4 linked regions of the Homo sapiens genome follow. The protein of the gene in region 4 interacts with the protein of the main gene of each other region in a pairwise test. Each region holds a gene or a part of one and is shown on either strand. Other genes may lie near its edges.

Evidence for each region. The genes of interacting proteins can lie anywhere in the genome.
Region 1: the proteins of DAPP1 (region 4) and TM4SF19 interact in a two-hybrid assay, tested with the Homo sapiens proteins (one large-scale study listed by BioGRID and IntAct).
Region 2: the proteins of DAPP1 (region 4) and GSTCD interact in a two-hybrid assay, tested with the Homo sapiens proteins (one large-scale study listed by BioGRID and IntAct).
Region 3: the proteins of DAPP1 (region 4) and MGARP interact in a two-hybrid assay, tested with the Homo sapiens proteins (one large-scale study listed by BioGRID and IntAct).

The regions. Positions count from the first base shown.
Region 1 is NC_000003.12:196,328,389-196,332,857, reverse strand, and holds part of TM4SF19 (transmembrane 4 L6 family member 19), read left to right. Parts: intron 1-4,469. UniProt on the Homo sapiens protein: Negatively regulates vacuolar (H+)-ATPase (V-ATPase) activity by interacting with members of V-ATPase V0 complex and hence inhibiting V1-V0 complex assembly. Required for multinucleation during osteoclast differentiation.
Region 2 is NC_000004.12:105,721,315-105,725,783, forward strand, and holds part of GSTCD (glutathione S-transferase C-terminal domain-containing protein), read left to right. Parts: intron 1-4,469.
Region 3 is NC_000004.12:139,267,946-139,271,194, reverse strand, and holds part of MGARP (protein MGARP), read left to right. Parts: intron 1-2,429; coding exon 2,430-2,523; intron 2,524-3,249. UniProt on the Homo sapiens protein: Plays a role in the trafficking of mitochondria along microtubules. Regulates the kinesin-mediated axonal transport of mitochondria to nerve terminals along microtubules during hypoxia.
Region 4 is NC_000004.12:99,836,326-99,841,764, forward strand, and holds part of DAPP1 (dual adapter for phosphotyrosine and 3-phosphotyrosine and 3-phosphoinositide), read left to right. Parts: intron 1-3,963; coding exon 3,964-4,097; intron 4,098-5,439. UniProt on the Homo sapiens protein: May act as a B-cell-associated adapter that regulates B-cell antigen receptor (BCR)-signaling downstream of PI3K.

The DNA.
Region 1 (4,469 bases), on a different chromosome or scaffold from region 4:
AAAAAAAAATTGTAAGTTGAACCATTGTGAGTCAGGGACAGTCTACTGTGTTGCCAGCATTAAATGCCTTTTGAACTTAGGATATTTTGACTTACAACGGGTTTATAGGAGTTCGACCCCATCATAAGTGGAGAAGCATCTGAATATACAGAGTTTGGTATGATCTGTGGTTTCAGGTATCCGCTGGAGCTCTTGGAACATATCCCCTGCAGATATGGGGGACTATTGTGTGTGTGTGTGTGTGTACGTACACACATATATACGCACATTATACATTATATGTATATGATATATATGTGTGTGTGCATATATATAGAGCCTCTGATCCATATCTTTTATATATATATATATTTTTTTTCTTCCCTTCCCCTTCCCCTTCCTCTTTCCTTCCTTCCTTTCCTTTCTTCCTTCCTCCCTCCCTCCCTCCCTCTCTCCCTCCTCTCTCTCTCTCTCTTTTGCTCTGTCACCCAGGCTGGAGTGCAGTGGCGTGATCTGGGCTCACTGCCACCTCTGCCTCTCGGGCTCAAGCGATTCTCCTGCCTCAAGCTCCTGAGTAGCTTGGATTACAGGCGCACACCACCACGCAGTTAATTTTTTTTTTTTGAGACCGAATCTCACTCTCTTGCCCAGGCTGGAGTGCACTGGCGTGATCTCAGCCCCCCAGGTTCACGCCATTCTACTGCCTCAGCCTCCCGAGTAGCTGGGACCACAGGCACCCGCCACCATGCCCAGCTAATTTTTTTGTATTTTTAGTAGAGACGGGGTTTCACCATGTTGGCCAGGTTGGTCGGAAACTCCTGACCTCGTGATCCACCCACCTCAGCCTCCCAAAGTGCTGGGGTTACAGGCGTGAGCCACCGTGCCTGGCCTCTATACACATATTTTCTGATTAGGTGCAAAGCAGTGTGTTATAGGCGTGTCAAGAGCCTCAAGTGGCCAAGTGCAGTGGCTCACGCCTGTCATCCTAGCACTTTAGGTGTCTGAAGTGGGAGGGCCCTTGAGCCAAGGAGTTTGAGACCAGCCTGGGCCACATAAGGAGACCTCACCTCTATTACATTTTTTTTTCTTCTGAGACGGAGTTTCACTCTTGTTGTCCAGGCTGGAGTGCAGTGGCGTAATCTCGGCTCACTGCAACCTCCACCTCCCGGGTTCAAGTGATTCTCCTGCCTCAGCCTTCCGAGTAGCTGGGATTACAGGCATGCGCCACCACGCCCGGCTAGTTTTGTATTTTTAGTAGAGATGGGGTTTCGTCATGATGGCCAGGCTGGTCTTGAACTCCTGACCTCAGGTGATCTGCCGGCTTTGGCCTCCCAAAGTGCTGGGATTACAGGCGTGAGCCACTGCACCCGGCTAAAAATAAATTTTTTTCAATAAAAAATAAATAAATAAATTAAATAAATAAATAAATAGCGAGCCTTAAGGGGAGACAGACGTGTAACTGAACTGCACAGTGGGAACAGGCCACTTCCTGGGGATGTCATGACGCTGACTTTTTTCAGATCCACATTGACATGAGTCTGCCCAAATATTACTAGTCCTATTTTAATTCATATATATATGTATATATATATATTTTTTTTTTAGATAGAGCTTCACTCTTGTTTCCTGGGCTGGAGTGCAATGGCACGATCTCTGCTCACTGCAACTTCTGCCTCCTGGGCTCAAGCGATTCTGCTGCCTCAGCCACCCGAGTAGCTGGGATTACAGGTGCCTGCCACCACGTCCAGCAATTTTTTTGTATTTTTTAATAGAGACACGGTTTCACCATGTTGACCAGGCTTATCTCAAACTCCTGACATCAGGCGATCCACCTGCCTTGGCCTCCCAAAGTGCTGGGATTACAGGTGTAAGTCACCGTGCCCGGCCTTAATTCATATTTTTCTAAAAAACAAGAAGTTCACATATCAATGAAAATATAAAAGAGAGGAACATAAGGAGTGGAAGAGGCATTTTATAATTTATCTAGATATGACATTTTAATTGTAATTAGCTTTATTGATATATAGTTAAAATTCAATAAAATTCACCTATTTTAAGTGCAAAGTTTAATGAGTTTTGTCAATATGTACAGTTATGTATTCACCACCAGAATCTAGACACAGAATGCTTCCACCCCTTCAGAAAGCTTCCCATGCCCCATACTAATCCTCTTTCCCATTCTCAGCCCATGGCAACCGCTCATCTGCTCTCCGTTAAAAGTTTTGCCTTTTCTAGAATTTCGTATATATAGAAACATGTGAGTAGTCTTTTGTTTCTGGCTTCTTCCACTTAACACAATGCTTTTGAGATTCATCCATGTTATATGTAGCAGAAATTTACGCATTTTATTACCTAATAGAACTCATTTGTATGGATAACACAATTTGTCTTGATTCACCTATTGATTACTGATAAGGATTTGAGTAATCACAAATTTTTTAATTGATTTTTTATTGTGGTAAAGTAACATCAGATTTGTCATTTTAACCATTTTAAAGTGTATAATTCAGTGACATTAATTACATTTGCAATGATGTGCAACCATTACCATTATCTATTTCCAAAACTTTTCTTCACCCCAAACAGAAAGTCTGTAACCCTTAAACCGTGGGCAGTGGCCCAGATCTGGTCATAGCTACTCTGGAGGCACGGGCTGGAGGATCATTTGAGTCCAGGAGTTGAAGACCAGCTGGGGTAACATAGTGAGACTGCATCTCTAAAAAAACCCCAAAACCACCGCGCGCGGTGGGAGGCCGAGGCGGGCAGATCACCTGAGGTCAGGAGTTCAAGACCAGCCTGGCCAACATAGTGAAACCCTGTCTCTACTAAAAATACAAAAATTAGCCAGGCGTGGTGGCACATGCCTGTAGTCCCAGCTACTTGGGAGGCTGAGGCAGGAGAATTGCTTGAGCCCAGGAGGCAGAGGTTGCAGTGAGCTGAGATTGCGCCACTGCACTCCAGCCTGGCTGACAGAGCAAGACTCTGTCTCAAAAAAAAAAAACAAAACAACACAAAACAAAACCTGAAAACCTCTGTAACCATTAAACAATAACTCCCCATTCTCTCCTCCCTCCCCACAGTCCCTGATAACCTCCAGTCTACTTTCTTTCTCTATAAAGTTGTTATTTTGAATATTTCATATAAGTGGAATCATACAATATTTGTCCTTTAGTGTCTGGCTTATTTCTTTTAGCATGATTTTTTTTTTTTAGATGGAGTCGCTTGCTCTTGTCGCCCAGGCTGAAGTGCAGTGGCGCGATCTCAGCTCACTGCAGCCTCTGCCTCCTGGGTTCAAGCGATTTTCCTGCCTCAACCTCCGAGTAGCTGGGATTATAGGCAAGCACCCAGCTGACATTTAAATTTTTAAGCAGTCTGATTAATCATGTTTTGTGGATTGTACTTTTTGCATTTTAGTAAGAAACCTTTATCTAACCCAAGGTCCCAGTGTTTTTCTCCTTTGTTTTATTCTAGAAATTTTATAAAGCTTTTAGACCCATGCTCCATTTCAAGTGAATTTTTGAATATGTTGTGAAGTAATAGTGAAGGCAGTTTTGTTTTGCATGTGCATTGTTCCGGCACCATTTGTGGAAGAGACTTTTTCCCGCTGAATTGTCATCTTCTTAAAAAATCATTTATTGGCCGGGCGCGGTGGCTCATGCCTGTAATCCCAGCACTTTGGGAGCCCGAGACAGGCGGATCACGAGGTCAGGAGATCAAGACCGTCCTGGCTAACACGGTGAAACCCCGTCTCTACTAAAAATACAAAAAATTACCGGGCATGGTGGCGGGCACCTGTAATCCCAGCTACTTGGGAGGCTGAGGCAGGAGAATCGCTTGAACCTGGGAGGCAGAGGTTGCAGTGAGCTGAGATCGCGCCACTGCACTCCAGCCTGAGCAACAGAGCGAGACTCCGTCTCAAGAAAAAAAAAAAATCATTTTTCCTGGACCGGGTCTGTTTCTGAGCTCCAGCCTGTTCCAGTAGTCCATATGTGTTTCCTTACGCGTGGCTTCAGTGTCTTCAATTACTGTAGCTTTGTAAGTCTTGAAATCACATGGCGTAAGTTCTCCAGCTTTGTTTGTTTTTCAGAATTGCTTTGGCTAATCTTCACAATTGCTTTGCATTTCCATATAAATTTAGATTCAGTTTGTCAATTTCTATAACAAAACTCTCCTAGGATTTTGACTGATATTGCTTTAAATCTTTGCATCAATTTAGGGAGAACATGTTAACTATTTTGAGTCTTCTGGTTCAGGAACATGGTATATGTCTCCATTTATTTAGGTCTCCATTAATTTTCTCAGCAATGCTTTGCAATTCTTACTATATAGGTCTTGCAAATATTTTGTTAAATTCATCCATATGTATTATATTTTTATGCTATTGTAAATGATATATTTTAATTTCAATCCTCAATTTGTCATTGCTTGTATATAGAAATACAATATAATTTTTGTATATTAATCTTTTATTCTATGACGTTGCTAAACTC
Region 2 (4,469 bases), 5.9 Mb from region 4:
TAATTCATATAGTGGTTATGTTGGCAAGCCTTTTTGCTTGCATTAACATACATTGAGGTGAATGGAGTGGCCATCCAAATGATCAGAATCAGGATCAAGTTCAACATCCGTAATCAAGGTCAAGTTACCAGAAACATAAAACTGAATCTAGGGACAGAATATTTAGTCGCAGGAATAAAGTCAAGGACATAAAAGTAAGAGTCAATTTTGCTAAATCAAGGTTTGAATTACTAAGGGTCAAAATTAGAAGAACTAGGGAAAATACCCAGTTCTGCTAAACAGAATAAAACCAAAGATGGAAAACAATAACAAGTAGAATCGATGAGGTGTTTTTTTTGTTTTTTTTTAATTTGTCAGAGACAAACATGGAAATGCTAAGGTATTATATATAAACCTGCTGCAAGCTCTTCCTTTTCAGAAAATACTTTATTACTTTACAAAGTTAACCCCTGATGGCTCAGCACCTCATAAGGAAAGGGGCCTGACGATACCCTCTCCTCTGAAAAGTCTTAGAAATAGATTTAAAAGGAATAAATTAATATGTACACTCATGTTTCCCCCCATTCAATTTATTTGCTAGAATTTTCTAGTAGATAGCGTATCAACATTATGGGAGAAATAGCAATGAATAGCTATACTAGGGCAAAATCCTACTGTTCCAATACTAGAAGATTGTATATTATTTTTCAGTTGCTACTAGTAAGCAAGTACACTTTGACAGAAATATTTAAAACATTATTGTACGCCTATAAGACAGAAAGTTGCATTTTATCATTTTATAAAATCTTGTAATTTGACCACTTATGATTTAATTTTCTACATTTTAACTTCTAATGCTTTGAATTGAGTTTAAATACACACATACACACACACACACAGACATCTTTATTAGCTTAGGTAAAATCATTCCTCTTTTAGAAATTGATTTTTTAGCAAAACTAAATACCTCTTCCTGTGTTCCCATCGGCATAAAGTTGGGAACCTCACTTTTTGCTGGCATATTGCAAAAATGGTTGATGCCACTTATTTAGTGGTAAATTTGTATTTTCTGTGTCTATTCCTATTCATTAGGTCCTCAAGAGCTTTTAGCTTTAACTCACTAGTTCTAATTTATAAGTAAAAAACAGAGAGCTGGGATTATATTTTCATTTAGATAGGTTGTTTACTGTTTTTTCTCTGCTTACACTGCTCACCTAAACATCTGTGAGTATATTTTCAAAAAAGGAAGTATGACTAAGGAAATGATATAAAATAAGAACAAATATTTTATATAGTAAGTGATTGTAAAGGAATGCAAAGGAGGAGATATTTTGAATAGATGCAACATCTTGCTTCTCTTTTTATTCTGACAAATTTTTCTGCCCTTTATTGACAATTAACTACAGAGTTACTAAAATTTTATTTTTGCTTTGATAGCTATGCTTTTTTTTTAAACCTTTGTTTTAAAAATAGATCATCTTTTTTTTTTCTTGTCCTTAAAGAACTCTGTGATATTTATAATGGTTTTGATCTTATGAGCCAGGTAACTATTTGGTAATCATTCCTTATGAAGAAATTTAATTTTCATTTCACAGAGTTTTCATTAGCAACTTCCTTAAATATATCTTCATGAGTGTAATGAATGTGGTTCAGTACCTTCTGAGCTATCTGGATATTAGTAGAGTGGCCTGGCATGTTGATAAATGGAGTGACCTGTCAGAGTAAACCTCCTCAATTTCTTGTAAACATGAATTATTGTTATTTAATTGCAACTTCATTTCAAAAGAAAGGAAAGATGCCACGTACATCTAACAAATAAAAATAAGTCACTAGAACGAAGAGTACAGGAAAGATGAGGAAAAGAGAAAATTTCTTGTGTGATTATCATGTCTAAAGATCCATTCCCTTAGCACCTAATCTATTTCCAAGCAATTCACAATTCTTGAGAGAATTAATAAACTTTTTGGCTCTCAGGGTACCTTAGAGAGTATTTTTCAAACTTTTTTTTTACTTTAACTCAGTAAATACAGATGGCCTTCCATATCCATTGGTTCTGTATTCATGTATTCAACCAACCGCAGATTTAAAATATTTGGAAAAAAAATTGCATCTGTACTGAACATGTACTGACTTTTTTCTTGTCGTGATCCCCTAAACAATACAGAATAACAATTATTTGCACAGTGTTTATATTGTATTAGGTATTAGAAGTAATCTAGGATTTAAAGTATAGGAGAGGATGTGTATAGGTTATATGCAAATACTATACCATTTTATATCAAGGACATGAGTATGAGTATCTGTGGATTTGGGTTTCTGATACAGGTCTTGGAACCAATCCTCCATGGATACTGAGGGACAACTGTAATACATTTTACAAGTTGGATAATTATAGAAATAAATGTATATCTTTAAATAATATGTAAAAAAATATATAAATAATTACAAAATAACTTATAGGATGTGTACTCTGATATTTTCTATTTCATTTTTTAAAAACCTACTATGTTGATTTCACAACCCCTAAATGAGTGATAAATAGCAACTTGAAAAATACTGACTGAGGGGATTACTCTCTGAAGGTAACAAATGGATTCTTTATCATTTGTTCATTCACTCAACAGGGTATTATTTGCAAGGCAGTGTTTTAAGTGCTTCAGTATTCAAAGAGAGTTACAGTCCTTGTTCTTATAATCAATTACTTGTGCTCATTTAATCTTAAAGTCCACTTAAAATACAGTATAATATATATGTATGAATTTTTTATTTTCTGTCCTTTCTGTCTCATGCTCTGATATTATTGTGAAATATATCTGTAGAGATTTCCTGTGACTTGACCTTTTTATTTAAAGGTCATAATCTGTTCATAATCTGTTCATAATCATAAGTCATAATGTGTTTGAGACATCATAATGGTTTCTACGGAAACATTTGTTGCCTCTCAAAGAAGCAAGAACACTCTAAATTTTCAAGAAAATAGAATTTGGTGGTAGTGCTAGGGAGAAAGCATCTGACCAAGAGAAAACAAAAATATATGAGTTTGTATCAGGAAGAACAATTTAAAATTTTTCTAATTTGAAAAAATAAAAGTCTTACTTTAAGTGCTGCTTTATAAAAAAAAAATTCTATAGTGCTAGTTATCTTTTTTAGTTTTAAATATTTACAATTTTCTCTTTTATCTTTTTACTATTTTCTTTAGTAAAATGTTCTCCTTACCTCATTGTGTAATTTTTAAAAATATGGTTCTGAAAGATGCTTCTTACATTATTGGTAAGGAATATCATTTAGATTATGCCTAATAGTTCACACATACAGAGAAGGTAGTTTCACAAACACAAAAAAATGGAACTTTAGATCATTATTAATAGTACAAGCTCTCCATTTTTACACTTCTGCAGTGAGCTACAAAATTTCTATGAGACCCCTCAAAATACATCAATGATTGCAGACTACAGATATTAAATTGTGATAATTTAAACGTGTTACATTATTTGTGTTGAGGAATTTAATACTTATTTTAATTCTTTCCCCATTAAACAGTTAAACTAATTTGCATAAGTATATATTAAGGATTTTAGGTTTTTGATATAATGTTGTCCAATTAACTCTCTATATGCAGTGTGTTAAGAACTTATCAAGTATATAGAGGGTCAGGAACAGAGGAATGTGTTCATGGCCATGAATTATAGATGAAAGGGTTTCCAGATTGGAATGCAGTTGATTATAGAGGAGTTCTTAGAGAGGGGTAAAAACATACTACCAATGAAAGATGTAGACAATTGAATATAAGATGTAAAGTTTTCCAAAATGATTTTCAGTTGTACTGTTTATAGACATTTGCAAATGCCATTGTTATTTATATTGATTCTTTTTGGAATTATTGTATTCTTCTTTTTCTATTGATGGTTGTTTTCCATTGTATAGCTGTACCACAGTTTATCCATTCATCTACTGAAGGGCATCTTGGTTAATTCCAAGTTTTGGCAATTATGAATAAAGATGCTATTAACATCTATCTGTGTTCAGGTTTTTGTGTGGACATAAATGTTCAACTCATTTGAAGCACAATTACTGGATTGTATGGTAAGAGTATATTTACCTTTGTAAGGAACTACCAAACTGTCTTTCAAAGTGGCTGTACTATTTTTCATTCCCACCAGCAGTAAATGAGAGTTCCTGTTGTTCCACATGCGCACCATCATTTGGAGTTGTCAGTGTTTTGGGTTTTTGCCATTCTGATAGGTGGCATTTCCTTGTTTTAACTTGTAATTCTCTAATGATATATGATGCTGAGCATTTTTTTTATATACTTAGTTGCCATCTGTGTATCTTTTTTGGTTGTCTACTCAGATCTTTTGCTCATTTTAATTGTGTTGTTCATTTTCTCGTTGCTGAGTTGCTCCAATTTTTATGCTATGAAATGAATCATAAAAACGTATAAGACACATCACTAAAGAAGATACACAAATGGCAAATAATCACATGAAAAG
Region 3 (3,249 bases), about 39 Mb from region 4:
TAGTATATTTTAAATGCTTATACTTAATAAATACTTAATATCATTTGTAAATAACTGCCAAAGTCTAAATTTGAGACCCTCTCTTTTAATAGGCCTTTATTCTACTCTGTGCTCGACTGTGCTGGATTTGGAAAACCTAGATTCTTTGGGCCACACATTAGGGTGAATTATTCTAGTATTGTATCTCTTCAATTCTCCCTAAAGTTAGTCTTTTTTCTTGCCTTGTGTTTTAGCCCCTTGAGCAATGAGACTAATGTCCCTTGGAATGTTGTTCCTGGAATGATCCTTTCAGGGATGTGAACTTGTGTACTGGTTCGGTTTGTGTACTGAGAACTGGGGATACTGACTTATCATATTGGTCCTACAAGGTGTCAGGAACACACACCCTACTCGGAAAATATTCCTTGCTTTTATACAGAAAATGTTGATTATCATTCCCGTTGATCATATTTGCTCTGTATGTTTCAAAGCCAAATGATTCAAGTCTGAGTTCACTAAACCCCGGGAAGTTTGCTATAAAAGGGTCACTTTACATCACTTCTACCCGACATTATAGATTTTCTTTTCTTTTTTTTTTTTTTTTTTTCAGACGCGGTCTCGCTCTGTCGCCCAGGCTGGAGTGCAGTGGTACGATCTCTGCTCACTGCAAGCTCCACCTCCTGGGTTCACGCCATTCTCCTGCCTCAGCCTCCCGAGTAGTTGGGACTACAGGCGCCCGCCACCACTCCTGGCTAATTTTTTGTACTTTTTGTAGAGATGGGGTTTCACCATGTTAGCCAGGATGGTCTCCATCTCCTGACCTCATGATCCGCCTGCCTCGGCCTCCCAAAGTGCTGCGATTACAGGCTTGACCCAGATTTTCTTTTCTTTTCTTTCTTTCTTTTTTTTTTTTTTTTGAGACGGAGTTTCCCTCCTTTCCCAGGCTGGAATGCAATGGTGCGATCTCGGCTCACTGCAACCTCTGCCTACAGGGTTCAAGTGATTCTCCTGCCTCAGCCTCCCGAGTAGCTGGGATTACAGGCATGCGCCACCACGCCCGGCTAATTTTGTATTTTTAGTAGAGACCAGATTTCTCATGTTGGTCAGGCTGGTCTCAAACTCCCGACCTCAGGTGATCCGCTGGCCTCAGCCTCCCAAAGTGCTGGGATTACAGGTGTGGACCATTGCACCCGGCCCCGACATTACAGACATTCTATTTTCACAGCATAATTTTTACACTGTAAAATTGTTTGTAATTAAGTAGTACAATTTTTAAATAAGGTACTTGGTTTCTGATGGTTAAAAATTTAGAAGACACTATATATAAATAAATTTTAGAAATCTATCATCTTACCATTAAAAGTTAAACCACTACCAACATTTTCTTAAAAGCTAAATTAATACAAACAATAGTAACTGAATAATGAGATTTTCATTTTTTATATCATTTTCTAATATGAATACAGGCCAAAGAAGACTACTTAAATATAAAATGAAAGGAAGCCTGCACATTTTGTCTGTGATTAAAATAGCTTTCTTCCCAATACTGTTTCTTTCTTTCTTTTTTCTTTTTTTTTTTTTTTTTGAGATGGAGTCTTGCTCTGTCGCCCAGGGTGGAGTGCAATGGCATGATCTCGGCTCACTGCAACCTCCACCTCCTGGGTTCAAGCAATTCTCCCACCTCAGCCTTCTGAGTAGCTAGGGCTACAGGCGAGCACCACCACCATGCCTGGCTGTTTTTGTATTTTTAGTAGAGATGGGGTTTCACCATGTTGGCCAGACTGGTCTCGAACTCCTGACTTCAGGTGATCCACCCACCTCAGCCTCCCAAAGTGCTGGGATTACAGGCATGAGCCACCGCACCCGGCCTGATTCCAGTTTTTGACTATTACAAATAAAGGTACCATGAACATTTGTGTACAGGTTTTCATGTGAACCTAGATTTCCATTTCTCAAGGATAAATGCTAGAAAATATTTGTATATGCCTGTCAGGATATTCTGGTTGTAGCATAATTCATTTTTTTCTTCCTTGTTTTTAGTTATCTTTGGCTAAGATAGTGCATCTATTTCCTTCCCTTTTTAAAAAGTTTTATTTTAGGTTAAGGTGTACATGTGCAGGTTTGTTAATAGGTAAATTATGTGTCATGGGGGTTTGATGTATAGATTGATTTGTCACCCAGGTAATAAGTATGGTACCCAATAGGTAGTTTTTCTCTCCTCATCCCCTGTCTCACCTTTCTTCCTTTTTAAAGCATTCTATTTAATAACAAAGATTTCCAAAAGGGAAGTAAAAGAGTAAGTGGTGTGCACTGATTTCTCTTCTTTGCTACACTGGGATTATGGTTTAAACTTCTAATGGTGATTACAGGGAGACTTGAGTGTACCTTTGGATGTGGCGTGACAAATCTTAAAGCTCAAGAAATAAACCTAAGCATACATTTACTTTCAGGCTTACAAGACAGTCACATCAGACCAAGCCAAACACACAGAACATAAAACAAATTTGAAAGAAAAAACAAAAGCAGAGATACATCCATTTCAAGGTAAATGAATTTCTTAATTTTTTATTTTTATTTATTTTTTGAGGCACTAATTTCCATCCACTTAGTCTAGCAATGAACACTATTTGCTTTTGGCTTCTTTCCTAGCTTAATCCAGAATGACTCTAGGTATAAGTTCATTTAGAAAGGAAAAGTTCAACTGAAACCTGAAGAACACTGTTACACCTTTTGGATGAATGCATTTGACAAATGAATGTTTTACATTTATATTGCTGACCAGTGACTTTTGACTCCTTTGTGTGGTAATATTATTTTCCCCTGCTCAGGCATCCACCCATGCAGGCATGAGCTTTCATTTTTCTCATTATCTAAAAATAATAATATAACAAATTATCTTTCAGTTTTGGCTAAGACCACCTGTGTGCCTTTGTGCAAACAAGGTACATTTGACATAATAGAATCAGTTGTGTATAATGAGTCCTTCAGTTGATAAAATGGTGACCATGGGAACAGAAACTTTATATTTTCACTCTTTCCTTCCTTCCTACACTTCTTTTTCCCACCCTCCCTTCCTTCCCCCTTCCTTTCCCCCTTCCCTCCACGGGCTCTCCCTCTGTCAACCAGGCTGGAGTGCAGTGGTGCAATCATAGCCTACTGCAGCCTTGAACTCCTGGGCTCCAGCAATCTTCCCATCACAGCCTCTCAAGCAACTAGGACTACAAGCATGCACCGCTACACCCAGCAAATTTATTTTTTATGTTTTGCAGA
Region 4 (5,439 bases):
ACACCCCCTTCTTTCTGTCTGGTGCCCCAGATCAGAGAGGCTGACCAAGCTTCTGGTAGTCAGGGGAGGCGGCTGGTTCTCAGTCGCATCTGACACTCTGGCTTCCACTGACATGTAGCAAGTATTCTTGGGTTTTTAGGCGCTTCTCCATGGATTAGGCAGGGGATGTAAGGACTCCATGAAATTTCCCTCAGCCACCCACCCATTAAGCTCAAACTGTTATTGTGTTACTGTTCTGATGGCACCTCCATATACCCTGGAGAGTCACTCTTCCCTTCATAGTGCAGTTCCTCAAGCTAATCTGGCCTCAGAGGCTCTCTCACTTCTTTCCCAGTCTACACGGTCACTACTGGTCACTAACTCAGTAGCAGCATTCACATTGTCTCTTTGGGCTCTGGGCCTTGCTTCTATATTCATTTTCTATGCTACATAACAAATTATCAAAAACTTAGGGACTTAAAGCAACGCAACTGGATTATCTCACAGTTTCTGGCTGGATTCTCTGTCCAGGATCCTACCAGGCTGAAATAAAGGTGTTGGAGAAGCTTGTGGCTCTGATCTGGTATTTAGTGTCTTCTTCCTTCATTTTCTCCTTTCCTCTTCATCCTTTTTCATCCATTCCCTTGCTGCCGTAGAACTGAGGTCCTCCTTTTCCTTTTAGCTGTCAGCCAGGGGCCATTCTCAACTCCTAGACGCCACCCACAGTTCTTTGCCACATGGCACCCATGGCTGTTTACCACATGGGTGTTTGCTTTCTTGCATGCCAGCCAGAACACATCTCCCTGACTTTTTCTTCTGTGAGCAGCCAGAGAAAACTCTGTTTTACAGGGCTCATGTGATTAGTTCAGGCCCACTCAGATAATGTCCATATCTTAACATCAACTGACTTGGGACTTTATGACCTGCTAAATCCCTTCCCAGTAGCATGTAGACTAGTTTTTGATTGAATAATTGGGATAAAGTGTGTGTACTCCAGGGGCTGGGATTTGGGATCATCTTAGAATGCTGCCTGCCACAACTCCCATTCCTGGAACAGTGAAAATCTACAGGCCTACTTGAAGTGGGTGGGTGTGCGAAACAGGTAGAGGGTGATGGGGTAAGTAGGGGTCACAGAGGAAAAACAAGCATATTCATTAACATTTCTCATGTCACCCTGTTATATTTTATTTATAAATTTTCTGAATAACATAGATGAAAAAATTATTAATCCAAGATGGAATTCTGTTTGAGTGGCAACAAGAATTGTGCTTTCTCTGCTCAACAGCAAATGTTAAAAGTTCATCTAATGGTTAAGTTGTAGATGCTTTATTGCACACATCAGAGGTCCTCAACCTTTTTGGCACCAGGGACAATTTTGCCACAGACCGGAGCAGCGGCAGATGGTTTTGGGATGATTCAAGTGCATTACATTTATTGTGTGTTTTATTTTTGTTATTATTACACTGTAATGTATAATGAAATAATTATACAACTCACCATCATTCAGAATCAGTGGGAGCCCTGAACTTGTTTTCCTGCTACTAGATGGTCCCATCTGGGGGTGATGGGAGACAGTGACAGTTCGTCAGGCATTAGATTAACATCAGAGGCACACAGCCTAGATCCCTTGCATGTGCAGTTCACAATAGGGTTTGCACTCCTATGAGAATCTATTGCCTCTACTGATCTGATAGGAGGTGGAGCTCATTGAGAATGCAAACAATGGGGAGCAACTATAAATAAAAATGAGCTTCGCTAGCTCACCCATCACTCGTTTTCTTGCTACGTGGCTGGCAGGGGGATGGATGGGGACCCCTGGCATGAATCTTCCAAAAATGAAAAGTTAATTAACTTTTCACCTATGTATGTCTCATCTGAGCAATTAGATCATAAGCTTTTTATAAATCAATGACATACATATTTCATATACATAAAAAATAAAGAATAAATTATTGATTTTCATTGCAAGCACTAGAGAATGCTTATTAAAAAAATGACCAGCAGAGGTGACAAAAACCACAGACTAATTCAGGAGAATGACTATTTTTGTTTTATGAACAAATATTCACTTATTTGTTCATTCTTTTAATGATGAATATTTGAAAGCATTTATTCTGCACCAGCCACTTTGGTACGTGTTGTAGAACAGTGGTCCCCAACCTTTTTGGCACCAGGGGCTGGTTTTGTGGAAAATGCGGGTTCAGGATGAAACTGTTCCACCTCAGATCATCAGGTATTAGATTCTCATGAGGAGTGTGCCACCTAGATCCTTCACATGTGCAGTTCCCAATAGGGTTCAGGCTCCTGAGACTCTAATGCCATCACTGATCTGACAGGAGGCAGAGCTCAGGCAGTAATGCTTGCTCACCCACTGCTCACCTCCTGCTGTGCGGCCTGGTTCCTAACAGGTACCCAGTCTGCAGCCCCAGGATAGGGGATCCCTGCTGTAGAAGATTGAAATACCTTATTTTGGGGAATTACAGCCTCACAGAGCCAAAAAGACCACATACAAGTAACATACTACAAAGTAGAGGTTGACAAATAACATAAAAGAAAGCAAGATAAGTGTTTAGGTGGTTCAGAAGGGAAAAAGCAGTTAACTTAAGCTGGAATTATCATGTAATACTTGACAGAGGAGGTGGTACTTGAACTGCACCTTAATGAGTGGCTGGGATTTCTACCAGCAGAGACAAAGAGAAAGACCGTTTCAGGAAAAAGGAACAGTATGAACTAAGGGACAGAAGTGGAAACTCCTTGAAGAGCAGTAGATCCAGTTGGACTAGGGCAGCTGTTCTAAAGGTGTGGTCCCCAGACCAGGTGTGTCACCTAAGAACATGCTAGGAATGCACAGTCTCAGGCCCCACCTTGGATCTACCGAATCTCAATCTGCAGGGGTGGAGGTGGAGGTGGCAGCAAGCTGGGTTCTCACAAGCCCATCAGATGATTCTGAAGCATGCTAACATGGTAGCATGGGCTGCACTGAGAGTAATAGCAGGAAGTGAGGCTAGAAAGATAGAATGGGATCAAATAAAGTGGAGAGGCAGATATATATATATAGATATATATAGATATCTATAGATATATATAGATTAGATATCTATAGATATATATATAGATATATATATATTGTTTAATACTCTGCCTCATTTCAAAAATGAAGTGGAAAATGACAATGTAGGAAATTTGATATTTTATTCAGTAGGCAGTGGAACATGCACGGGAGGAAAAGGGCTAGGCTCACGTAACTAATCAAGCGACAGAGCTGAATTCTGATTGACTCCCAAACAAGCAAGGGAGAAAAGCCCAAGGCAGAGGAGAGTGTGGTGAGGGTGTCATATGTCATTTCTATCATTCCTATTCTCTGCCCTTCTTAAACTCATGCCCCTTAGCAGCATAATGTTCAAGGACTCTTTTGGTAAGTCTAGGAGTAGATAGGGAGAACAGTCTCTTGTCTTCCATTAGAGTGAAAAGTTGAGGCTGGGCGTGGTGGCTAACGCCTGTAATCTCAACACTTTGGGAAGCCGAGGCAGGAGGATCACCTGAGGTCAGGAGTTCAAGACAAGCCTGGCCAACATGGCAAAACCCAGTCTTTACTAAATATACAAAAATTAGCCAGGCATCGTGGCAGACACCTATAATCCCAGATACTCAGGAGGCTGAGGCCAGAGAATCACTTGAATCCAGGAGGCGGAGGTTGCAGTGAGCCTAGATCATGCCACTGCACTCCAGCCTGGGGGACAGAGCAAGACTCTGTCTCAAAATAGTAAATAAATAAATGAATTAATTAATTAATAAAAGTTGAAAAGAGCAAACTCTGCCAAAAGAAACTAGTGATGCTATTTAAAACTGTCAGTGGTTTCAATGATTGCCTAATTCTCAGTTCTTATAAAGGGTTAATAGTGATGCTAACATCTGAGATCATATTTCCCTTCAACAAGATATTTATTTGTTAAATAATATTAAATACTTCTTTTTCCCTTTTAGGGCCAAAGATTCTGTTAAACACTTTCATGTTGAATATACTGGATATTCATTTAAATTTGGCTTTAATGAATTCTCATCTTTGAAGGATTTTGTCAAGCATTTTGCAAATCAGCCTTTGATTGGAAGCGAGACAGGTAAGCTATGAGCAGACACTTGACTTATGAAATAATGTTTCGGGATGGAGGAGAGACAAGGCAGATTTCAATTTAAGAATGTCATTGTTGTCATTTATATTTCAGCATTATCTTGAAGAGAAAACAATGTATTTTGTATAAAGTAGATATTTTCTCAGAATGTGTTACTTAATGGATTGATTAAAAGCACACAATTTCTTTAAAATGGGCTCACCATTTTAAAATAACATATACAATACACACAAAAAGAACAAAGGTAAAAATGACTTTTTGATTACTCATAATTTCAGATATAGGCAGTTTGCATATGAGTGAGACCCACAGAAGTAAATTTTGAGCATTTTAAAAACTAAAATTCCCACTTAAATGTTCACAGAGATCACTGAATATTGAAAATATTAACTAGGAAGCACTCTCCTAAGTTATAAAATTCTGTTTCTATTGTCACGGTTTTTTAAATAAGATTTTAAGCTAGACTTAACTATGGCTGGAAAAGTTTGAATTTTCCTGTTTGAATGGTTAGAGAATTAAACCAGAAAAAAATTCATGTGTAAAGAAAAAAAACACAAAAAACAGTCTATCTTGGCACTTGAATTATCTAAGATTGAACATCTTGTTTATTTATATTATTTTAATGAAGTAAAATATCATCCCTGTATTTGTGATATAGAATCACAACACTTTTGTCCTAAATAATGATAAATCTTAGTTAATCAAAGACTAGGAAATTCCAAGAACCTGCGGCACAAGAGGAACTCAAGACTTAATAACACAACCAGTTACCATGAGTTTGTACATACGTGTTTTCTTGGCAAACTTGCCAGTGGGCTTTCTGTTAACTTCAGTGTGATGGGAAGAGATGGCATCATTGGCTTCTGTCTTTTCTGCTATTTATGTGGTGTGGGTAGTCCCTGATGTGACTCACACAGTGTCTAGTATACATGAAGTGCACAGCGGAAACTAGAAAATAGTTGCTCTGCTTTATACTGACCACACCAAGCCCAAGAAAGAATAACCCAAACTACGAAATGAAGTTATAACCTTTTTTTCCTTCTTTCTCCTGGTATAAATTCTCCCAATCAACCCTGAAAATTACTTCACCATTTAACAAGCAGTTGTTCCCATGAACAAATGGCCAGTGGAGGTGTATTTATTTCCACTGCTACCTTGGCCTTGGCAAGCATTTCAGTTTCTCAAATCCCTACACTTCAGTCTCCTTTCCTGCTTGCATCCAATTCCACACTTGATTTTGTTCAGTTATTGGTCACTGGCCATGTAGAGGAGATTTTTAAAGCCAGGGTTTTGTTTTGTGTACCTCTAATTTTTGTATTTCATATCCGCC